Linked DNA regions of Homo sapiens. The protein of the gene in region 1 interacts with the protein of each later gene in a pairwise test. Each region holds a gene or a part of one and is shown on either strand. Other genes may lie near its edges.

Evidence for each region. The genes of interacting proteins can lie anywhere in the genome.
Region 2: the proteins of PER2 (region 1) and LMO4 interact in binary tests that used the Homo sapiens proteins (3 or more experiments, as listed by UniProt).
Region 3: the proteins of PER2 (region 1) and CRY1 interact in a two-hybrid assay, tested with the Homo sapiens proteins (5 studies listed by BioGRID, with this or other methods).

The regions. Positions count from the first base shown.
Region 1 is NC_000002.12:238,257,058-238,264,750, reverse strand, and holds part of PER2 (period circadian protein homolog 2), read left to right. Parts: intron 1-1,692; coding exon 1,693-1,799; intron 1,800-2,406; coding exon 2,407-2,560; intron 2,561-2,913; coding exon 2,914-3,022; intron 3,023-3,797; coding exon 3,798-3,923; intron 3,924-4,697; coding exon 4,698-4,782; intron 4,783-6,106; coding exon 6,107-6,254; intron 6,255-6,350; coding exon 6,351-6,475; intron 6,476-7,664; coding exon 7,665-7,693. UniProt on the Homo sapiens protein: Transcriptional repressor which forms a core component of the circadian clock.
Region 2 is NC_000001.11:87,324,597-87,332,231, reverse strand, and holds the start of LMO4 (LIM domain transcription factor LMO4), read right to left. Parts: upstream 3,353-7,635; 5' UTR 2,988-3,352; intron 1,006-2,987; exon of another isoform or gene 418-1,005; intron 220-417; 5' UTR 217-219; coding exon 1-216. UniProt on the Homo sapiens protein: Transcription cofactor. Plays a role in establishing motor neuron identity, in concert with MNX1, acting, at least in part, to disrupt LDB1-LHX3 complexes thereby negatively modulating interneuron genes in motor neurons.
Region 3 is NC_000012.12:106,992,198-106,999,890, forward strand, and holds part of CRY1 (cryptochrome-1), read right to left. Parts: intron 7,666-7,693; coding exon 7,354-7,665; intron 5,870-7,353; coding exon 5,718-5,869; intron 5,494-5,717; coding exon 5,291-5,493; intron 5,190-5,290; coding exon 5,097-5,189; intron 840-5,096; coding exon 768-839; intron 694-767; coding exon 590-693; exon of another isoform or gene 1-589.

The sequences.
Region 1 (7,693 bases):
CTCAGAGGCTGAGGCAGGGGGATCACTGAGCCTAGGAGTTCAAGGCTACGGTGAGCTATGATTGCACCACTGCACTCCAGCCTAGGTCACAGCAAAAGACCCTGTCTCAAAAAAATAGAAAGAAAAAAAATGTGTGGGCCACTGGCAGTAGTCACCGAAAAGTGACCTCAGAAGATACCACAGGAAGTGGACCAAGAAGCACCAGTGTGCTGGGTTCCTAAAATGAACCAGGTCACCTAGAAGCTGGAGGATCAAGACCTCTCCCTCCTCTACTCTTGGCCCAGGGACACAGGCCCCCATCCTTGGAGTCAGGGCCACACAGCTTCCTGGGGAGGCTCTATGGGTAAAAAGGGATCCGTCACTTCCAGCTCCAGGTGGCTCAGGTGTGTCCGCGGGGCTGCCTGGGGCAGAGCCAGTTTGCAGATGCAGGCTTCTGGACACCACCCTGCCCTGTGGAACCAGGATCTTGGAGGGCAGGGCCTGGGGCCGTATATGTAAAGCAGCCTCTGGAGACTTTTCTTCCTTCAGAGATCTGAGAACTGTCTCTAACCCACTCCCATGCCAACTTGGTGTCCAGCTCAGCCCTGTGCAGGGAGGTTGGCAGACAGGTTCACCTGGCATGATGGGCCACAGCCTGCAAGCTCTCCTTGATGAAGCCTTGTGTGTGGCCTGGCTCACAAAGCCCAAGGACAGCCAGGGCTCCCCCTCCTCCTCCCCTCCTTCTTTTCACCCTCCACCCCCTTTCTGCTCCCTCCTCTTCCTCCTCCCCCTCTTTTTCCTTCCTGTTCCCCCACTCCTCTCCTCTTCCTTCCTCTTCTTCCTCCTTCAGCAAGGCCTTGATGGGACGGATGCCAGGAACATTCTGTATATCCTGTCCAAAGGAAAACATGAGGCCTGAAGAGAGAGCCTCAGACAAGAAGGAGGAAATCAAAGAATAACGCCAGGCCCTTGAGAAAGTTCTGCACCATGGTCTAAAGATTCACAGGGAAAATCCTTCTACACAAGCAGCAGAGTTTGAGGAAACATTGGTTTGGATGCAACAAGTGTTAAGAGGCAGATCGGGAGAAGAAATGGTCGGTGGAGCCGGCAGAGGGCGCTGGACACAAACAGAAGCAGAAGGTGCTGCTGAAGTTCAGCTCCGTCCTGCAATGGAGCAAAGCCACAGCTCTGGGAGGAGGCATGAGCTCAAAGGGCAGAGGCCCAGCCAGCCACCGAGACTCCAAAGAAGCCACAGTAAACCAACTGGATGCTGAGGCCAAAGTCACACGAGACCAGGCTGGAAAAGAAGCACATACAAAGGGTTTTCCGAGGCCCAGGCAAAACTTGTTAAGCAAAAATCCATGCCAGGTCACATGTGGCCAAACTAATGAATGACACTGAAAAAGAAAAAGATGCTGGAAGGAAGAAAACAAAAGCATGATCATGACTTATCTCTTGGGAGGTGAAACGCAGAGCTGAAGCACTCAGGCCCCAGCAGAGGGAGCCTCCTTCAGCGTCCTGGACAGTGAACCTTCGTTTGCTATTGATTAAAAGTCTAGCTGGTTCTGTTAGTCCAACTTTTGATCTCCGGGGGTGGGGGAGGGGGTGGGGTTTGGAGTGTATCTTCTCTTTCCAGGGAATAAGATGGTTCTTAGTGACAATCTCCTCATCTGTTTGGATGCCAATCCTAGCGTGTGTCTGCTTGCCTTCCAGGGCGGTCCCTCTCCTGGGCTACCTACCTCAGGACCTGATTGAAACCCCAGTGCTCGTGCAGCTCCACCCTAGTGACAGGCCCTTGATGCTGGCCATCCACAAAAAGAGTAGGTCCCCTTTTCATGGTACATCCTGAAGTGTTTGGCGGAAGTTCCTGTGTCCTTGGGGCTGCTTCTTGGGACCAGTCTAGCTCTGACAGGTCAGATCAGCTAAGGACAAGCAGGTGGTAGACGCCCGCCTCGCCGCCTCCCTCCTGGCACTGCAGTGCCCAGTGGAGTCGAGAGAGAGGGGTAAACTCATGTGAGTTCCTTTGTGGCCAGTTGTTTCTCAGTCCGTGGCCTGAGTCCGTAGCATCTTATGTTTACTGTTGGCTTCAGTGGCGCATGGGAGGAGGGGAGACCAGTTCATCTGTGGCTAGGAAGGTTCTCACCAGGCCAGGGGAGTGCACAGTGCATGTCCTCACCAAGCCCAGCCCTCATAGATGCAAGTGACACTAGCAGAGGTGAAACATGGGATGAAACAGCTCCTGCTGGAAACAGCCTCCTGGTAATCTACAGCAAAAACAGGAGGTTGAAAGCAGTGGCTTTGAAGAAGTGTTCATACCCCTACAGTTTGCAAATGATCCTGGGCCTGAGTGACTCTTGACTTGTCTCTCTCTACTATAAATCCTGTTTGCTCCCCTTTTCCCCTGAATGCTGGCTTTTGCTCTCCTAGTCCTGCAGTCAGGCGGGCAGCCTTTCGACTATTCTCCCATTCGGTTTCGCGCCCGGAACGGAGAGTACATCACGTTGGACACCAGCTGGTCCAGCTTCATCAACCCATGGAGCAGGAAAATCTCCTTCATCATTGGGAGGCACAAAGTCAGGGTGTGAGTGCTCCAAGGGCCCGAGGTGGCTCAGGGGTCTTGGGCGGGGGTCTCGGGCTGTCCTCACCTCCCAGCAACAGATGGCATAGGGAGGGGCTGAGAGGCCAAGACCGAAACCTTGCTTCCTGCCACCAATCTGGAGCCCCAGACTGCTAGGCAGGGGTGACCTGTCCTCTGCCCCCAAGTGGGAGGGACCTCATTCAAGCAGAGTAGGGAGTGGACAGGCAGCAGCCTGGGGGGCTGCAGGGGAGAGGCAGAGGGCCCACCCAGGCAGGCAGCATGTAGTGGCTATACAGTCACGCCAGAGAGGTCCTCCTGTGGGGCCCCATCTAACAAGATGAATTAAAACCACGCAGGGGCCCTTTGAATGAGGACGTGTTTGCAGCCCACCCCTGCACAGAGGAGAAGGCCCTGCACCCCAGCATTCAGGAGCTCACAGAGCAGATCCACCGGCTCCTGCTGCAGGTGGGTGTGGTGCCTGCATGTCCTCCTCCCAGGTAGCAGCCTGAGAGCCCCCTGCAGAGGACATAGGCTCTGAACCCTGGTCCTGGCACACCCACTCAGACAGCTTCATCTGTCATTCTCTGAACATCCCCCAGGGGACAGTTTGGGCATAGACTGTGCTAGTCCGAGACAGTCCATAGTACCCTTGGCTCTCTCCAGCCTTGCATTCGACCTTGTCTGAACTGCAGCCCTGAGTGAGTAGCTGAAGGACGTGTGCAGACCCCGTGCTCTGACACAGGCTGCATAGTTCCAGAGTGACCTCTCAGTGGTGCGGGGGCTCATTCTAATCCAGAGCAGTGGGACTTAAGGGAGGGACATTGTACTCAAGGTCCCTAAAAAAAATCAGGCCCACTGCAGTCAACCCCACACCTGAGTAGGCGCCTGCCTGTCAGTTCCCGGAGACTGTGGAGTGAAGCTGTCATCGCATCTTGTTTGTTTTAAACCCATCCACAGAGGCGTGGCTGGCTGCAGCCATGCGTTGATGAGCGGGTTGGACACATTCCTTTGGTGCCGTCTCCTCGGTGACTGCATGTCTGGGTCGGGGCACCGCGGCTGGAGGCCAGGAGTCTACCTCTGGAGCTGACCCTGGGGTTCAAACCTCAGCTCCCCTGGTCTCTGCCATGTAGCCTTAGGCGGGTCGCCATCCTCTCTGCGAAACAGGGTGTGTTGGCAGGGGGCCACATGCATAGCTCAGCAGCCCTGGCTGTGTCTGTAGCGCTGTCTGCTGTCTCCCCAGCCCGTCCCCCACAGCGGCTCCAGTGGCTACGGGAGTCTGGGCAGCAACGGGTCCCACGAGCACCTTATGAGCCAGACCTCCTCCAGCGACAGCAACGGCCATGAGGACTCACGCCGGAGGAGAGCCGTACGTCTCCTTCCATTCTCCCTGAGAAAATGAGTTTGTGGATGTCCCTCCAGAGTTAAAAAGCACACTCAAGACAACCTTTGGCAGTTAGGAGGGGCTTCCTGATTGCAGCTGTTGCTGCTTCCTTTCTAAACTTTGTCCACTTGGGACTTTTTAATCTCTTAAGAGTTGAAAGAGCTAGAAACCATAGCTAAGTGTTGGTTGAAAATTATTTAAAACAGACAAAACAAGCAAAAGTGAAGATTTAACTAGGATAGAAAGAAGAAAATGTGGGCTGGGTGCGGTGATTCACACCTGTAATCCCAGCACTTTGGAAGGCCGAGGCAGGCGGATCACCTAAGGTCAGGAGTTCAAGAACAGCCTGGGCAAGGTGGTGAAACCCCGTCTCTACTAAAAATACAAAAATTGCCTTGCATGGTGGCGCGCCCCTGTAATCCCAGCTACTCGGGAGGCTGAGGCAGGAGAATGGCTTGAACCCGGGAGGCAGAGGTTGCAGAGAGACAAGATTGCGCCACTGCACTCCAGCCTGGGTGACAGAGCAAGACTCTGTCTTAAAAAAAAAAAAAAATGTAATGTGCCGTTTTGCTTTATTTTTTATTATTCTTTAGGATCATCAAATAGGTTTTATCTAGCTCTACACCTGTCAGATTTCTCATCCACAGTTTCCTTCTGTGTTGCTGAAATTATTTCAGCCATCCTCTGTTCTCACTTTGCCGGACAGACTGAAGGAGGTCTCCTAGAATGAATAATGTGTTCATTTTGTTTTTCTTCAAGGAAATTTGTAAAAATGGTAACAAGACCAAAAATAGAAGTCATTATTCTCATGAATCTGGAGAACAAAAGAAAAAATCCGTTACAGGTAAAAAAAAAAATATTCAACATTTCCTTACTGAAACTAGAGTATGGCCACATGAGAAGAGGGAACCTGGGTTAAATGCTGACTCTGGCTGGCAGGGAGTCTACCTTGTAGCCGTGTCACACCCCCTTCTGCGTTCAGCACAGTCTGCAGCTTCCAAGAGGCGAGAGCAGCCCAGTCCTGCACTCAGCCAGTGCAGGCACTGATGTCCACACTGGGCACCTGATGCCCTGCAGGCCTGGCGGGGTGTGGCTAGGTGTGCAGGCCTGGGGAGCTGTGACCAGTGTGCCTTCCTGCACCCTGGCCTGCCAGCAGGGTGTGCCTGGGAGCCACGGCCTGGGCCGCTTGTTCTTGCTGTACAGAGTAGCTGTATGGCTGTGTGTTTACACTTGCAAACCCTTCACTCACACACACACACAACTGCCGACGGTTTGCCCAGCATCCACATACACTCAAACCAAACCTGTCTGAAGTGGGGAGTACCACCCAGGGGCTGCCGACCCACCCCCACTGCAGCAGCCCTTTCCTACCACAGCGCCACACTTCCCAGGCAGCTTCACAGTGTCATGCGCGGGTTCAGATTCATGCTGCTCCTCTGTCCCGCATGTATTTCTCACACAGCATGCACACAGACACGTGTGCACACATGCATGCATCCCAGTCCCCTCCCCCTGGTGGGCCCTTGCTCATTCTCTGTGCTCAGGCCGAAGCCTCCCGTGGGGAACACTCTGGCCAGACACCGCTAGGACTTTTGGCCTTGGGGATGTGTTGGTGGACATGCTGCCTGCTGGACTCTGTGCTGGGTGTTGGGGACACGCTAATGAGCTGGACACAGCTCTTTGCTTGAGGGTCCCTAGGGGACAGGCATGTGATGAATGTCGTTGGGGCAAGAGTCGAATCTGCAGCACAGTGAGCAGGCAGTTGTCATCATAATTGTTACTAGCAGGGATCACCTTGAAAACACTGGCCTGGCCCAGGAGGAGCATAAAGTACGTGGGCTCTCATTGGCCCTGAAAGTTTAAGAGTTCAAGTGAGAACTGCTGTCTCCCACTGCTGAGTCCCTGACCCCTGGGGACAGCCTAGACCCCAGAGAGAAGCAGACACCAGGCTGGGCAGCAGCTCCCCCCCCAGGTCTCTCTGTGGACGGCACTGTGGTGCTCGTGCCCACAGGGCTGCCAGATGCCAGGCTGTCCCCAGGCTTCCATACTCATGAAGCAGATTCTGAGTCCCCAGCCCTGTCTTCAGGTAGAACGAAAATGCTTTGTAAATACACAGCGTTTTCTGTGGGAGAAAAATGAATGAAAGAACAATTTTGCCATTCCTTCAGAAATGCAAACTAATCCCCCAGCTGAGAAGAAAGCTGTCCCTGCCATGGAAAAGGACAGCCTGGGGGTCAGCTTCCCCGAGGAGTTGGCCTGCAAGAACCAGCCCACCTGCTCCTACCAGCAGATCAGCTGCTTGGACAGCGTCATCAGGTATGCCGGCATTTCCAGCCGAGTCTCCACCATCTCACACACCTTCCCTCCTCTCATGTTGTGTGGCCTCACCAGTGGTTCATGCCTTTCACACAGGTACTTGGAGAGCTGCAATGAGGCTGCCACCCTGAAGAGGAAATGCGAGTTCCCAGCAAACGTCCCAGCGCTAAGGTCCAGTGATAAGCGGAAGGCCACAGTCAGCCCAGGGCCACACGCTGGAGGTATCTAATCTGTGTAGAGCCATGTACATGTGAAATAATGTAAATCCTCTGGAGTAGAGTCAGACGTCCCCATGGCTTCTGTGGACACAGTGTAAGGGTGTAGGCTGTTTTTCAAATGATGAAAGTAGTTCAAAAGTCAGCACCCTTCTTAGGAACTAGAGGCAAAGATGGTTCTGTCAGAGCCTTGGCTTTGAGAACAGGAAGCCAGTGGGGCTACTGGAGGCCTGGGGCCGTCCCCTGACCCCCCTCATGCAGACACACTGCAGGGACATCTCCTGGTCCCCTTCATGCGGCCACACTGAGGGGCCGTCTGCTGACCCCCTCATGCAGCCACACTGGTCTCAAGTTGTCAGTCTAGGGCAGGCCCTCTTTCCAGTGTGTCTCAGAGGGGCCCTTGGCCTGAATGTTAACATGGCCCATAAATCACATTAAATCCCAGGCTGCTTAACACAACGCTGTCAGTGTTGCTGATGTTCACCACCAGGATTAGAAATGGTACCCCGGCTGGGCGCGGTGGCTCACGCCTGTAATCCCAGCACTTTGGGAGGCCGAGGTGGGTGGATCACTTGAGGTCAGGAGTTCAAGACCAGCCTGGCCAACATGGTGAAACCCCATCTCTACTAAAAATACAAAAATTAGCCAGGCATCATGGTGCATGCCTGTAATCCCAGCTACTTGGGAGGCTGAGGCAGGAGAATGGCTTGTACCTGGCAGGCGGAGGTTGCAGTGAGCCAAGATTGCATCACTGCACTCCAGCCTGGGTGACAGAGCGAGACTCCATCTCAAAAAAGAAAAAAGAAAGAAACAGGGTATCCCGGATTATGGTTGGCTCCTGACTGTCGGAAAGCCCCTCCCCACAGGCCTGCAGAAGGGCTGCCTGGCTGCAGGCAAGAGCCCCTCACCAAGTGTGCCCTGCAGCTGCCAAGCTGCTGCGCCTCCCTGCAGAGGCCTCAGGATTTAAGTGTGTAACTGCTCCCATTTCAGAACTTTCTCTTTTCCACTATTCTTCTATGAATAAACATTGGGGACAAATCACCCCATGCCTGGGCCAGAGCATCTGTGGGATGGGATGGGATGGGTTGTGTGCACCCTGGTGTGGAAGCTGTATGGGCACTTGGGTGTCGGTTTCTCATCTGCACAGTGCATTGTAATGACACACTAATGTTTGTTCCCCCTTCCTCTCATGAAGAGGCAGAGCCGCCCTCCAGGGTGAACAGC
Region 2 (7,635 bases), on another chromosome or scaffold:
AAGGATCATGCCACTTTTGGTGTAACAGGACGTGCCGATGTCGCCCAGCTGCGCCTGGCAGCAGGAGCACTTGAGGCACCGGCTGTGCCAATAGCTGTCCATGGCATAGAGCAGAAAGCGGTCCGCAATCTTGCCCCCGCAGCCTGCGCACCGCTTCCAGGAGAGGGAGCCGGCCGTCACCGGGGGCGGCTGCGAGCTGCTGCCCGGATTCACCATGGTCTGCAGAGGGCGGGAAGGGGACAGGGAGAGAAAGACAAAACAGGGGCGATGCAAAAGTTAGTAATCGCCGGAGAGAGAGCAAGCCCATTCCCCTCCTCCCCGCGGAGCTGCTGGAAGGAAACAGCAGGGCAAGGGCGGGAAGGAGGCTGAGGGGGAGAGGGAAGAAGGGAGGCTCGCCGGCAGCAGCCGCCTGTTTACTTTTCTCAAGCTTTGTTCTGGGGCCACGAGCTCCTCTCAACTTTCCTGCGCTTGCCGCCGCTGACAATTTCAGCTCCGGTACTGTCAAAACTCCGAGAGCAGGCTCCGCTGCGCGCTCCACCCCTCGCGGCACCTCCTCCCAGCCCCCGCCTCCGCCCACTGCCCCCTCCTCCCCTCCTCCGCCGCCCGCCTCCAGCAAATGAGGGTCAAACCCACCCACCGCCGCGCCCGGCCCCTCCCCAGCCCCCGCCGGGCCCCGGGACAGAGCCGAGAGGAGTGGGGAGGCGGCGGCCCCGCCGGAGCCTCGTTCCCTCCCGGGTTCTGCCCCGGGAAGTGCAGCTGCAGTTCACAAGTTGGAAATAGTTCGGTTTTCCGAAAGGGAACGAGGGAGGGACCGGCAGACGGGAGACGGAGAGCGTGGTGATGGGAGGGAAGGCAAGGTGACGGGAGGGGTGGGTGCAGTGTGTAAAGTTGCGAAACTGGTTTTTCGTATTTTAAGCAGCACCTTTCACATGCCATTGTGGTGACCGCCATCTCCCATTATTGTTCCAAATCTCATTTCATTTTGAAGATCAATGAGTGTTTTCTCTGGGTTTTCAGGACACAGGCAAGAATAATAGATCATTGAACTTTAGGATGCCTGTTAACTTCCTATACAAACACTCTCCACTTTGGTCTCACTAATCTGCCCTTGATCAGCAATTTAAATGCTAAAGCTTTGTTCCTCCAAAGGGCGGGGGGGGGGGGGGGGCGGGCGGCGTTACAGATAATGTGCGAGAAGGCACCATTAAGGGATGCACAAGTTAAATTCGAGCCCGTCCTGCTGTCACCAAAAACTGCTTTAAAAAAGAATTCCCCACTCTAATGAATGCCACAAGAGATGCAACTGGGATATAATATAGGAATCAATTTATAAAGCTTAGCCTAAACCGATTAATTTGTTGCCTTCAATCCCGAGTCCAATAAAGTCCTAGTGTTCCTCTAGTCACTTATTCTGTAAAAAGATCAAGTTATTTACTGCCAATTAAGCAGCCTGTATTGTCTTTGTCCTCTGTAAGCTGAGAGTGTGGGCTCCCCCTGAGGCTCCCGGCTATCTGCTCAAGACATTCAGCTGATACCTCAGAAGAAGGCGAACTTTGCCTGTACCCGGCCCAACTTGGCTGCTGCAAAAAAAACGAGGAAGGAACGAAACAAGGACTCGGGTTCCTTAAATAGGCCGATTTTAAACACATTTCCTCCGAAAGAGTCCCGGAACGTGTGTCCAGTGACCGCACAATAAACCAGAATAAGAACTGCACCAATTAAGCTGTAACAAAACCCTGAGACTTTGGAAACAGGACCACTCTAAAACCCATTAGCATTGCATTTATCCGAATGCATCATACCTTTATGTAAATTGATTTATCTGATGCATTTACTCGAGGAATTGCTTTTTGTTACAATTTCAGCCCTAACCCAAATGAATCTGCATTTCCTGCCCTAGATCTTTAAACTGTTTCCCCCAACGTTTTAATCGCTCCGAATTCCTTTTTAAAAGGAGAGTGAGGGAGGAGATTCCAAGCTCTTCCCCGCCCCCATCTTTAGTGAGAGGTAAATATATATGTATTTTTTTTTTGAAAAGGAAACATTACACTGAGAAAAGCATCCAGTAACCCCATTAGCTAAAGCTCTTAAGGACAAGCAATACCTTAATGCTGATTAAATCTAAAAGAGATGAATCAAGAAGACTGACCAGAAACTGACTCCCCTGATAACTAAGGACGGGCCCTCATCAAGTTTCATTTAGAGTTGGAAAAAAAAAAAAAAAAAAGAAAGCTTTTAAGTTAAATAGGCTTATACTCTAGTAATTACATAGCCAAGCAATTTAGGTCCTGGGATAGTCAGTGAAATAGAAAGCAGAACTGGCAGCTAGAGGCAAAATCTGCCCCCCTTTAACAACGTCTCTGGTGTTTTTTAATGGAGACCAAGGGAGGGACAAACGTAACGCTGGCAATTTGTAGTACAAAAATGGATGCTTAATTCATGTCTTGATTTTAATTAGGTGATTCACCGTATTTCTCCTGGATTGGAACAAAAGACTTATAAGCCAAGAAGAATTTTTTTAAAAGAACCAGCAATACCGAATCCTGCTCACTTAGATCCTTCCTGCCACTGTTTCAAAAATAGTGTTTACTAGAAGGGAGGGGGGGTATCGTGACTATCCCCACCCCCACCCCCCCAAACACACTACTTCTCATACTTAAAATCCTCATCTAAGCACCCCTTGCCTTTCCCTTATGAACTAGAAATATCCCCACCCCCTCTACGGTCCCCACCAGCCCCGTTTCCAAGAAGAGCCCTTTTGTAAGCAGGAACCGCTACAAAGCTGGCGGCCCGGGGCTGCCCTCCGCGCTAGCTCGCAGGCCGGCCTCGGTAGTTTCAGACTCGCGCTTTATCTAAGCCGACGTATTGTTTACTTGCAATTTGGGACGGTCAGGGGAAGGAAGCCAAAGAAAACAGCCCTGGCCCGAATCGACCCCCTCCCTCCCTCTCCCACCTCCCGGCCCGCGGCTCTCCACCCGCCCCCTTACCTGCTTTTCCCCTATATTGCAATATTGCGAGAGGCGGCGGCGGTGAAATGCGAGCGAAGCCGCTCGGCTTCCAGGGAAGGGGCGCCTGGGCTGGCGGAGCTGGAGGGAGGGAGGGAGTTCTCGCAGAAGCAGGAAAGGGGAGGAGGGGGCTAAGGGCGGCTTTTTTTTTTTTTTTAAATCGCGTTGCTCTGGGGCGGGTTGGGGGGCCCCCGCGTAAGTGCCGGGCGGCCGGGAGCAGAAGTGTCAGTCTCAGTCTTCGTCCTTCTCCGCCTCCGACTGCGCGCGAGCAGCTGCAGGAGCCCTCGGCCCGCGCGGCGCGGCTTCAGGCGCGGCGCAGCGGCAGCAACTGCTGCAATCGCTGCTGCAAGTTTGGCAATGTGGCTTCACTTTGTATATTCCCCCGCCCGGGGGCCCCCGCCCCCGCCCGCGCTCCTCCCGCTCCTCCTCCTCCTCCGCCGCCGCCTTCCTCCCTCCCGCGCGCTCGCTCGCTTGCTCGCTCCGGGATGGCAGCGGCGGCTCGGCTGAGCTCCCTGCACCTCCGGCCGGGAGCAGTCGCAGACACAACAGCCCCGGGAGCGGCGGCGGACGGTGCGGAGGCCGGCAGGCAGGCGCACCCAGGCGTCGGGGGCTGCGGCCGGCCGGGCCCGGCGCGCTGGAGCCTGCGCCGCTGCCGGGGCTGTTGCTGCCCGGCTCGGAGGCGGCGGCGGCGGCGGCGCTGGCCTCTAGCCGGCTCGCTCGCTCCCTCCGCGGCTCTTACACATGTGTTACTGACAGAGCAAAATCCCAACTACTCCCCGGCTCTGCCTCCGACGTCAGCGACCCTCAGCCACTGGGCGGCCGGATTGTTCAGGCGGAATAATAAAACCTGCCAATCCGGGGAAGGACAAAGGGATGACTGAAACGAGACTCGGGGGGCGGGAGAGAGAGCGAGGCGGCAGAGCTGGCCGACAGAGGAGAAGGGAAGGGCCCGAATCAGGTGGGGTGAAGTGACCCGGGCGCCTGGGGCCGGGGACCCGCTTGGGCTGCCCTTCGCGACCCGGGATCCGGAGTCGAGACGCAGGGCGGGGCCTCACCTGCCTTCTCAGCGCACGGGGACCCTGAGGACCCGCGCCCGCTCGCCCCTCGGGGACTGCCATCCCCTCTATCTGAGAGGAGACCCTTAGGAAACTTACCATCTTTCTCAGAAATGGGTCTCTTCCTGTTTGGGAAGATAAGTCCTGCATCTTAGGGCAGTGGACTTCTATCCCCTCACGCACAAGCACACAGAAGAGGATTTTTGTTGTTGTTTCTTTAATTCACGATATTGGAGATTTATGAACCGTAGTGGAAGCTTAGTTAACAAGGTAGAAACATAAAGGAAATAATAGTTGCTAGCTAAATACTGCCTACTTAGCCTCCCTCATACTCCCATTTTTCCGAGTTTGAAAGTGCCTAGCAGGCATTTCCTGGATCCTTGTCAATTGCTGGTGATGTAGGGAGCACAGTCCTTATTTTCAAAGTTGACGAAAACTTAAGGGAGAAAGCCTTTCCCGACTACCCTCCTCACTGTGGAGGATGAGAGGCGGAAATTCTCACAGCCCCCAAAAGCAATGGAAGTAATTGCAAGATTTGCAATCTCACAGCCTCTAGAGAGTAAGAAATGTCACTTCTAGTATAAATCAAGTTTTGAGGAATGCTTTTAGGGTGCTAGCCTGAGAGTCTTTTTCCAAGGCCGAAGCACAGCCTAGATGCTTGAATACCTAGGCATTCGACTTTATCTACTCTGCCAAATAGGTTAAATAAATCTCCAGACTGAGGCTAATATTAGGCCTGATTATTGTTAGTAAGTTCCAGAGAGATTTTTCTGGTGGAAATTATCATGAAAGTGCAAAGCCCTTCTGCTAAGTATCATTAAGTAAAACCAGCCTTGTGGGGCAAGTTTTCATATTGTGTTACACACAGTACTGCTAGATTGAGGAAAGGAACCTGAAGGAGAATCTGGCGAGACAATGCAGATGTTGAACATTTAGGGTTTTAGTGTCTATTTGGGGGATTTCTGTCTTTCAAACCATCAAAATTAATAAGGCTGCATAAGAAAGAATAATTATTGCCCATACAGTCAGGTAGAGGGCATTTTAAATATCAATTCAAATACTCATTTTTTAATTCTAGCACCTTAAAATTAAATGAATTAATTTTATTGATTTGTATTTAAAGTTGCACTGCTATGATGAATTCACCTTGTGCACATATAAAAAACTTTTTTTAAAAAAAAGTCATTAAAACTATAATAGTAATTAAAATGTCCTACACAGAAAACAGCTACAGATGGGCATGATTAAAGAGGACCAACTTAGAAAAGATGTAATGCTGCTTGAAGGTTAGTCAAGAAAACTCAATTAAACCAGATGAGGAGAGGAACACCATAAACAAATAATACATTTGAATCCCCTGGTTCATTTTCACTTTTTAAATAATTTATAATAAAAGGAGATGACACAAGATCTTAGTGGGCTACAATTAAGTTATGATTTGTCATGTGCAAGTAAATTTCCGTCTCTGGGCCTTAATTTTCTCATCCACAAATGAGAGAATTAAGCCAAATGGTCTTTATTTTTTCTTTTTAAAAATGATTTTCTTAGATAGAGCACATAATGCATAGATGTATAACGAATTGTGGTACTTTTCAGGATTTTTCCTGAAGAATATGCACTAAAACGAAATCTTAATTCCTGAAGGAAATGTTAGAAATTTAACCAGACACATGTTCAGCTATCATTGAGTGATTATCCAGAGGATCCCGGTGGTGTTTGTGGAAGGAAGGAGAGTGAGATGGATAAAACTTTGAATAACAGAGCTCTAGGCTACAGGGCCTACATTTTAGGAGGTGGTTTTAGTGCTTCAGCTCTAATTCTGTGCGGAGTGAGGTCTTTAAACATGTCCTGGTAGATTGGAGTGGATGGGAGTGTATTACCAGAGAGCTTTATTTGCTGATGTGTGTTTATAGAAATACAAAAGCGATAATGGCTAACAGTCTCTCTTCTGAGAGGTAGGGAGTAAATACATTCACTGTAATCAAAATTCAGGTGTACTTTTACCACAGCGCCACCTCTGGGTAATCTTTATTTCTGCATTCTTTGCGTTTAGCAGTCCTTTCTCATCCTGATTTGTGGTCTGAAAATGCCTGGTTGAGTGGGTAGCAACGTCAATCTTTTATTTCCACTGATGCGAAACACAAAAACCTTGTAAACACACACAAATTCAGTATGGGTAAAGAAATTCTGTATTCGGATATTCTTCAAACAAATATTAAAAACAGTGCATAAAGTAATATTCCTGGTATGAAGTAAAATTGCCTAACTCGAAATAATGTTATATTGTGCCCCACAGTTGACGAAACCTCTGCTGATATCACACATTCATCATTCATCCTACTCATCTGCAATGAGATATAAGATTAGGGGGCTTTGGAAAAGAAAGATAAATGTAAATCGTTTCTTTCTTGAATCCTAATTAAATGTGGGAACCATACTGCTCCTAGATCAAGCCGTCATTTTCTCCACTTGCCCCAAAATTATTTGTTCATAGCTTCCTTTCTCGTTTATGTCCTTCAATCATAATCATTCTTTTCTCCAAGTGACAGTTCGCTAAGAATCTCCCATGGACAGCCAGAGGTTCTACACAGACCTATGCAGCCTTTAATGTCTGGAGAAAGTCTAGGCTATTTGATGCTGATATGACCTCCAAGACAACATGCCCCAGCTCTTTCTCAGGAAAAAATATTCTGTCCTTTTAAAGTCAATGCAAAACCGTTTTTGAAGAAAGTCTTTTTAGGAAGGAAAATTTTTAAAAATCTGCTCAACTTTATTGCTGCCATCACAGAGATCCCTTGATATTCAGTTTCCTCCAACGTGAATACAAAAAGCTTGAGTCTAGGACAACAATTCCAGAGTGTAAAAGGTGTGGAGAGAAAAGGGAACAGTAGTTACCAACAGAAAAAACCCAAGGAAGAGGAAGGGCAGGTTAGGTCCTGGGCCAGTTTTCTGTGGTGGCGTTGTCGTCTGAGCAGCAGGGTGTATGGCACAGTAAGTATAGTCGGACCTGCTGCTTCATTTAAGAATAGGAGTTTACAGGCCCAGTGGCCCACGCCTATAATCCCTGCACTTTGGGAGGCCGAGGCAGGTGAATCCCTTGAGTTCAAGACCATCCTGGGCACCATGGCAAAACTCCATCTCTACTAAAAATACAAAACTTTAGCTGGGTGTGGTGACATGTGCCTGTAGTCCCAGCTGCTGGGGATGCTGAGGTGGGAGGATCACCTGAGCCCTGGAAGTTGAGGCTGCAGTGAGCCATGATTGTGCCACAGCACTCTAACCTGGGAAATGGGAGTGAGGCCCTGTCGCAAAATAATAATAATAATAAGAGTTTACCTAGAACTCAACATCTCGAAAAGCCTATATTTCACGGAACCATATCTTGGCTTTAAAATATTGATAATATTTAATAATACTTTGAATTTACTGACTGCCTTTTTAGTCTTTCTCAAAATTCTTTATAAATATCTCACTAAATGTTTCATGTGATAAATGTTTCTAATAATTGCCTTATTAGAATATTATTGTTTGTTTTTTGTTAAAGCAATCCAGATGACTACGTTGGGTAAGTATCC
Region 3 (7,693 bases), on another chromosome or scaffold:
ATCCAACGTATAAATATTTTTCATATTAATTTAAATCACAAAATGACATCCCAAATCCAATTAAATTGAATGCAGGCAAGGCTTTCTGATACTTCTAATAAGGGCCAGCATTTTAAAAAATTTTGAACTATTCCCAAATTGGAAATAATTTAGATTTTAGAAGCATCATAACAGATAAAAGAAATTTATCAACATTTAAGAGGCAAAGATTTAGGGGAAAGTTCATAAAAAGATTATATTAATGTCACTAAAATAAACAGGCCACTTTAATTGTTTTAGACTCATAGTTACATAGTAAGGAAATAAAAAAGTTGTCTTTTTCTAAGAAAAAACTTGACCACAAAATCATAAACATCTCTAATTTAAAGAGCATTGGTTCAGATGAATATAAAACTGGTGCAACAATTTCTCCAGTACAGATGCATGTCTCTTGACCAAAAATTAACTGAGTTTGTAAAAATTGCTTAAAAATTAATGCCTCAAGATTTTCTGGTTTGAAAATAGAGATTTGCTCCATTTTTGAAATTATCTTAATTTATGTTAATTATATACTCTTCTAAAGCAAGAAATACAGCTCTAAAATATTTACCTAATTAGTGCTCTGTCTCTGGACTTTAGGACCAATACTCTGTGTGTCCTCTTCCTGACTAGGACGTTTCCCACCACTGAGACCAGTGCCCATGGAGCTTCTTCCTGCACATTTAAAAAATGTATGTTTAAGATAGGAAAAGGAAAAAGAACAGTATGCTCCAATGCTTCATTCTTACCTTGCTTCAACAGGTGAGTTTGCTGACTGTCGCCATGAGCATAGTGTAAAATACCACTCCCTTGAGAGCAACCTGTTAGTATTTAAAACACAGTAAAATTACTTAAAATCAAATCCAAGATGTATGTATTATTAAGTCTACAAATCCAACTTTTAGCGCTTGTACTTAAGGTCATTTATATGCTTTTAAGACTAAATCTCAATCTTCCTATGAACCAAAAATCACATGCTCAAACCAGGAAAACTTAAATTTAGGCTCACAGAAGTGTTGACAGCTCAAAGGAAAAATCATTGATGATCATTTTCTAAAAAACATTTCCTTACTAGATGACAATTTGAAACTTGACCATGAAGGTAAAACATAGGGGCAAGAGTGAGATAGACATTCCTCCCTCACTCTTGTCCCTTTTCCCACGCTTTTCCTTCAGAGCTCCTCCAAACATATTTCCTTGAGGATAAGGGAATAAGGGCCTGCCCGATGAGTTAAACAATTCAAATCATACGACAAGCAGAAGACACAGACTATGTGGCAGTTACCTAGCCTAAGCAATCCTATCAACCCTTCTAAAAACAAACACTATTATAGGAGAATAGGTTGGCTAGAACAGAGAAGTATGTTTTAGGGAAACATTTCTGTCAGTGTGTCCAGTTTATGGAAAAATATGAGCATTCTGGACCTATCCACGAGCAGGTGGATAGGTCAACACCTTATGGCCTGAACAAGACTGTGCACTTACTTTCGTTTTAATTAACTTCAATCCCAGGCAATCAGTGGCAGTTGCTCACCCTAAGTGAGTATGAAGTACTATCCCATAGTTGTTTTAATTTGCATTTCCCTAATGACTAATAATGCCGATGAACTGATATTTTACAATAAAAAAACCTAAAAGTTAAATAAAAACTAAAACATATTGCTACAGTAGTAAACATATTACAGTCTGTTTTATTATAAGAACAAAAGTAAGACTTCTATGTATAGTTTATTCCTTTCCTGAGCACATGTGCACACACACACAAATACAAAGATGAGCAGAGAAAAATGCAATTTGTGTTGCAGAGATTAAGAATGTTCCACAGTCATTAAAAAAACAAACAAAAACAAACAAACAAAAAACTAAGACAAGTAAAAGAATTTTGCCCTTTGACATGCCTTGTAAGGTACTATAAAAGCCTACAGACAGGATAAGTGTAAGGCATAAAAGGATATGCTTTAGAAGCATTTAAGTCCTTTCAAATGGGGCAGAAACCTGAGAGGAGAAATGTTTAATATTAATAGCATAGCCCAAGCCGTGTCTTTTCACAATTTCCCATTTCCAGGTCTAAAATGTTTTTTTCCTTCATCTGACTACCCAAATGCTACTCAATCCTGCCACCTTTCAAGAAAGTTTCTCTAGTCCCTTCAGCTCTCAATAATCTCTCCCTTTTCTCATATTGCACATGGAGGCAGCATCTTATAATTTATCACTTTTTCATTTGTTTTTGTTTTCCCTCCACACCCCCATTTATACTTAAGTTCTACTTAGCTTTTCATGTCTCATGTCTTTTGAAAGCCTCCAAGAAGCTGGCTACAAACTATGTTACAGGCAAATATTTACATGATTAAAATAATTTCAAGATTTATTAATTCTTCTATTATATAATAAACTACCCTATATACATTTGTGAAGCAAAATTGTCCCAATTTAACCTGCTACTATGATTAGCTTTTGAAGATAATTCCAAATAAACGACACAGGTTTGAGTGGTCTAAGAAGCAGTCTGTGCCATCATTGTGTATTAGCCCAACCCTTGGTTCCTAGCCCATTGCTACCTGCCTGTTATCTTAGTGCTTCACAGAGCTTCTGTCCCTCACTCATGTGTGGGCTGACAAGGCAGGCTGTGAACTGAACAAGAGATCTGAAAGAACTTTTGAAATGATTATCTTGTGGAAGTTTATTCAAATTGTAGGAGATACTGAGAAGGAACATTTCTCAAGTATACTGCCATCACTGGCAACTGTCGACTGCTGGGTGGATCACATTCCAGGAATAAAATATTTTCTCTTGTAAACACTTATGGCATTCCATTTGCAGAGGAGGCCCAATGATGCAGGAAGAAGTACAAGCTTTGGAGCTAGTCAGACTTGGATCTGAATCTTAGCTCAACTACTTACTAACTGTGGGATCTTGGTTAAGTTACCTAATCTTTCTAGGATTATTTCCCCAAATATAAAATGAGGATCCCACTACCTCCTCCCCAGGTTACTGTGAGAAAGTATGCAAAAATCCCTTACTATCTACTGGGCAAAGGTAGGCAGTCAAAATGTGAGTGCTTTTGTCCCCTTCTCCCAAAACTAATTCTTGGAGGATAAAATACATGCTGTTTTCATGAGGATGCAGGACATTTCTGAATTCAAAAAGGTTCAGTTTTTAAAAGGTTTTATTCTTAATATCAACTTAGAACATCTGACTTAAAAAAGCATTCCTCAAATGCTACCCTGTTTTTATCCTGTTTTTTTTATTTTGAAAAATATAGATTCACAAACAGTTGTAAAGTTAGTACAAAGAGGTCCTGTTTCCCTATCTTCTTAGTGACATCTTATGAAACTACAGTACAACAATATAACCAGGTATTGACATTGATACAAAGTGTTTGTATGATTTTATGCTCTTTTATCACATGTATAGATTTCTTTTTTCTTTTTTTTCCCTTCAATTTTTATTTTAAGTTCTGGGGTACATGTGCAGGATGTGCAGGTTTGTTACATAGGCAAACATGTGCCATGGGGGTTTGCTGCACAGATCAACCCATCACCTAGGTATTAAGACCAGCATGCATTAGCTATTCTTCCTAATGCTCTCCCTGCCCCTGCCCCCCCAACAGACCCCAGCATGTGTGTTTTGTTGTTTTTTGTTTTTGAGATGGAGTTTTGCTCTTGTTATCCAGGCTGGAGTGCAATGGCGCGATCTCAGCTCACCACAACCTCTGCCTCCTGGGTTCAAGTGATTCTCCTGCCTCAGCCTCCCAAGTAGCTGGGATTACAGGCATGCGCTACCACGCCCGGCCAATTTTGTCTTTTTAGTAGAGACGGGGGTTTCTCCATGTTGGTCAGGGGCTGGTCTCAAACTCCCAACCTCAGGTGATCCACCCACCTCGGCCTCCCAAAGTGCTGGGATTACAAGTGTGAGCTACTGCACCTGGCCCCAGTATGTGTTGTTCTCCGCATGTATCCATGTGTTCTCATCATTCTACTTCCACTTACAAGCAAGAACATGAGGTGTTTGGTTTTCTGTTCCTGCCTTAGTTTGCTGAGGATAATGGCTACAAGCTCCATCATGTCCCTGCAAAGAACATGATCTCGTTCCTTTTTATGGCTGCATAGTATTTCATGGTACATATGTACCACATTTTCTTTATCTAGTCTATCATCGACTGGCATTTAGGTTGATTCCACGTCTTTGCTAATGTGAATAGTGCTGCAATGAACATACGTGTGCATGTATCTTTATAACAGAATGATTTATATTCCTTTGGGTATATACCCAGTAATGGGATTGCTCAGTCAAATGGTATTCCTGCTTCTAGATCTTTGAGGAATCACCACACTCTCTTCCACAATGGTTGAACTAATTTACAATCCCATCAACAATGTAAAAGCCTTCCTTTTTCTCTGCATCCTCACCAGCATCTGTTGTTTCTTGACTTTTTAATAATCACCATTCTCACTGATGCTGTCCTATTTTTTAATCAAATTACTGAGCTTCATGCTATTTTTGGTCAAAGCCAAAAACTAATATGATGGTTCAAATTTCTAACACATACTGAGTTCCTGAAATTATTAATATCACACATAAGAATTTACATGGTCACTAAATTTGTATCATACAGAAAACTACTACAGACCAGACTTTATAAGAAAAACTTATGTGCAAAAAGACTAGAGGGCTCTATGCATGTGTACAATAAATCTTTTGGCCATGTTCACAGGGCCACTGACTTTCTTAACTAATTACCTTATAGTTGCCATACACCTAAGGAGTAAAAAATAATAAGCATTCTGAAAATATGACATTTGAGTTTCATTTTATCCTTAAAATTGCTCTCCTCAGTTTGCAAGAGCTTTAACTTGACCCAGTATCTATTATACGTAATGATATTTTCCATCTCTAAAATGTCATCAATGGAGTGAAGAGATGTGTCTGGGTGCACATGTATGCATGCATACAAAGAATCTATTAAGCTAATTTCAAAGACAGATTTTTATAAAATATGTTAGTGAGGATCAATAACAAATATATTTGTTTAATAACCTCTTCATGTTACTAAGTGCAGAAATTTCCTTTTCACTTACTTCCACTGCTGCTACAACCTGGGATATTTTCTGCAGAATATCCCATGAAGCCTCCATTCCCATTAGGATTAGAAGGTACTGATGCCAGAAGACCTAAAGGACAAAAAAATTTTCTTTTAAATTATGATCAAGATAAAATTCAAAGATAAGTACATAAACAGCTGCCAAAGAAACAAAGACAGTTCTTAACATACCTAGTCCTCTATATCGTGAAAGCTGCTGATAGATCTGTTTCATCCTTTCGATATTCAAACGGCTTGCCTCAGCATGGTTCACCATTGGTTTAGGATAATTAACTCCTATCAAACATTTGGCTACCTTTTGGATACCTTCTGGTGCATTCCAGGGATCATAGATATATTTTGCAGGGAAGCCTCTTAGGACAGGCAAATAACGCCTTTGGGAGAAAAAAGAAAGATTACTAATAAAATGCACTCTAAGCAAACTATAACTACTAGCTATGACAGACCAAAATCAAATCAAGACCATTTAAATGATCTGTTTACCCTTCTCATCTCTGCTGCCCATCATGAGTGGGGAATACTTTAAGCATTGATTAAACATGAAAAGCTCTTCTTGAATTAACTATTCCAAACTGAGTAGTAATCACCCTTGATTTACCTGATATAGTCTCCATTGGGATCTGTTCTCCTACCAAAACCAACAGGGCAATAGCAGTGAAAAAACTGTTGAAAAAAGGAACTACAAGACAGCCACATCCAACTTCCAGCATTTATGCTCCAATCTGCATCAAGCAATAATTCTTCAAATACCTTCAGAAGTAACAGTAACCAATTAGTTTGCACACACATAATTCGCAAAGCAAGCATTTTCAAGGTCACAGTAGAGCCAAAGTCAAGGCAAAGAAAATCTAGCACAGAATTGTAAAATTAAACATTCCAAAGTTAGCTTCCCTATGTTCTGTTCTATAATGAGCTCTTCCAGAGAAAGAAACATAGTGGTAATATAGTATGCTTCTGAAGAGAATTTACTTTTCCAACCTCTGCAGTGTTACTGGGAGAATGGAAGGTAAAAAAAATATTCAAATCACTGATTTAAAAGGATGTGGATTTAAAAGGATATTATTAGTAGACACAGGAAAAGCAGTCAACCACTTTCAAGAAAGCAAAAATGCTATTACATAAAACACCAACAAAAACTTAGCTTCATATTCTAGCCTAAATAAAGGAAGCATACTCAAATATAAATTCACTTAAAAATATATACTAGCATTACATAGTTTAATTTCGAATTCCTTGATCAGAAAGAAAATAGAATTAAAATAAATGATTTTTATATATATTCATTAAGTATGTTATATATTGTCTTTGTATACAACGGTGTACTAGGAAATATAAGAGATTAAACACACACACACACACACACACACACACACACAAGCTCAGAAATGGTCCTTGGATGGGGCAAATGTATGGTATTGCCAGAAAGGTAAAAAATGTACGTAATGGCCGGGCACGGTGGCTCATGCGTGTAATCCCAGCACTTTGGGAGGCTGAGGCAGGGGGATCATTTGAGGTCAGGAGTTCAAGACCAGCCTGGGCAATATGGTAAAACCCTCTCTCTACTAAAAATGCAAAATTAGCTGGGCACAGTGGTGGGCACCTGTAATCCCAGCTACTCGGGAGGTTGAGGCAGGAGAATCACTTGAACCTGGAAGGCGTAGGTTGCAGTGAGCTGAGATCACGTCATTGCACCCCGGCCTGGGCTACAGAGTGAGAGACTCCGTCTCAAAAAAAAAAAAAAAAAAAAAGTACCTAAGTCTTATTACGTGTAATCCACAAGATGTCGTCACAAAATGTAGTATGCTTCTCTTTACATAATAGAAGTATTACTAAAAAGCTGAGAAGTGAGGTGAAATGATTTATATTTTAAAATTTATAATATGAATTCACTATCTCTAGGAACTCTTTAGTGAATTCTTTTCGTGATAGAAATATCACCTATAAATATATCTATCAACAAATTCAGTGTTAAATTTTACAGTTCTCTTAGTGGCTAGGCTGGTTTAACCATTAAAATGACTTTAGGTTAATCAATTTAACCAGTTTTCACCTTTTTGCTTGTCTGATTATACCATTTTTCTCTGAAAGTGTCCCCGTATTTGGGGAATTAAATGTTTTATCCACTGAAAAACTACACCATAAATGAATCTATAAACAGACAACTTCTAGGATTTGTTTTATTAAGGTAAGGATTCCTTCAAAATAAGGCATGCTATATCAGTTAGAACACTTACCTTCATTCCTTCTTCCCAACTAATCCACAGGTCCCCTCGTGTCAGGAAGCAAGCAACTGCATGCCTGGCTAGATGATGAATCCAACCCTCCTGACGAAGCTGTGTCATGATGGCATCAATCCATGGAAAGCCTGTCCGGCCTTCCGCCCATTTGGCTAAAGCCTCAGGATTTTTATCCCAAGGAATCTGAACACAGATAGGGTTTCCTTCCATTTTATCAAAGCGTGGATTATTTGTTGCTGCTGTATAGAAAAATTCACGCCATAACAGTTGCCCATAAAGGGAAAGGGGAGGGGAACTGTTCTTCTTTACCTATGGTTAAAAAGCAAAGAAGTATTAT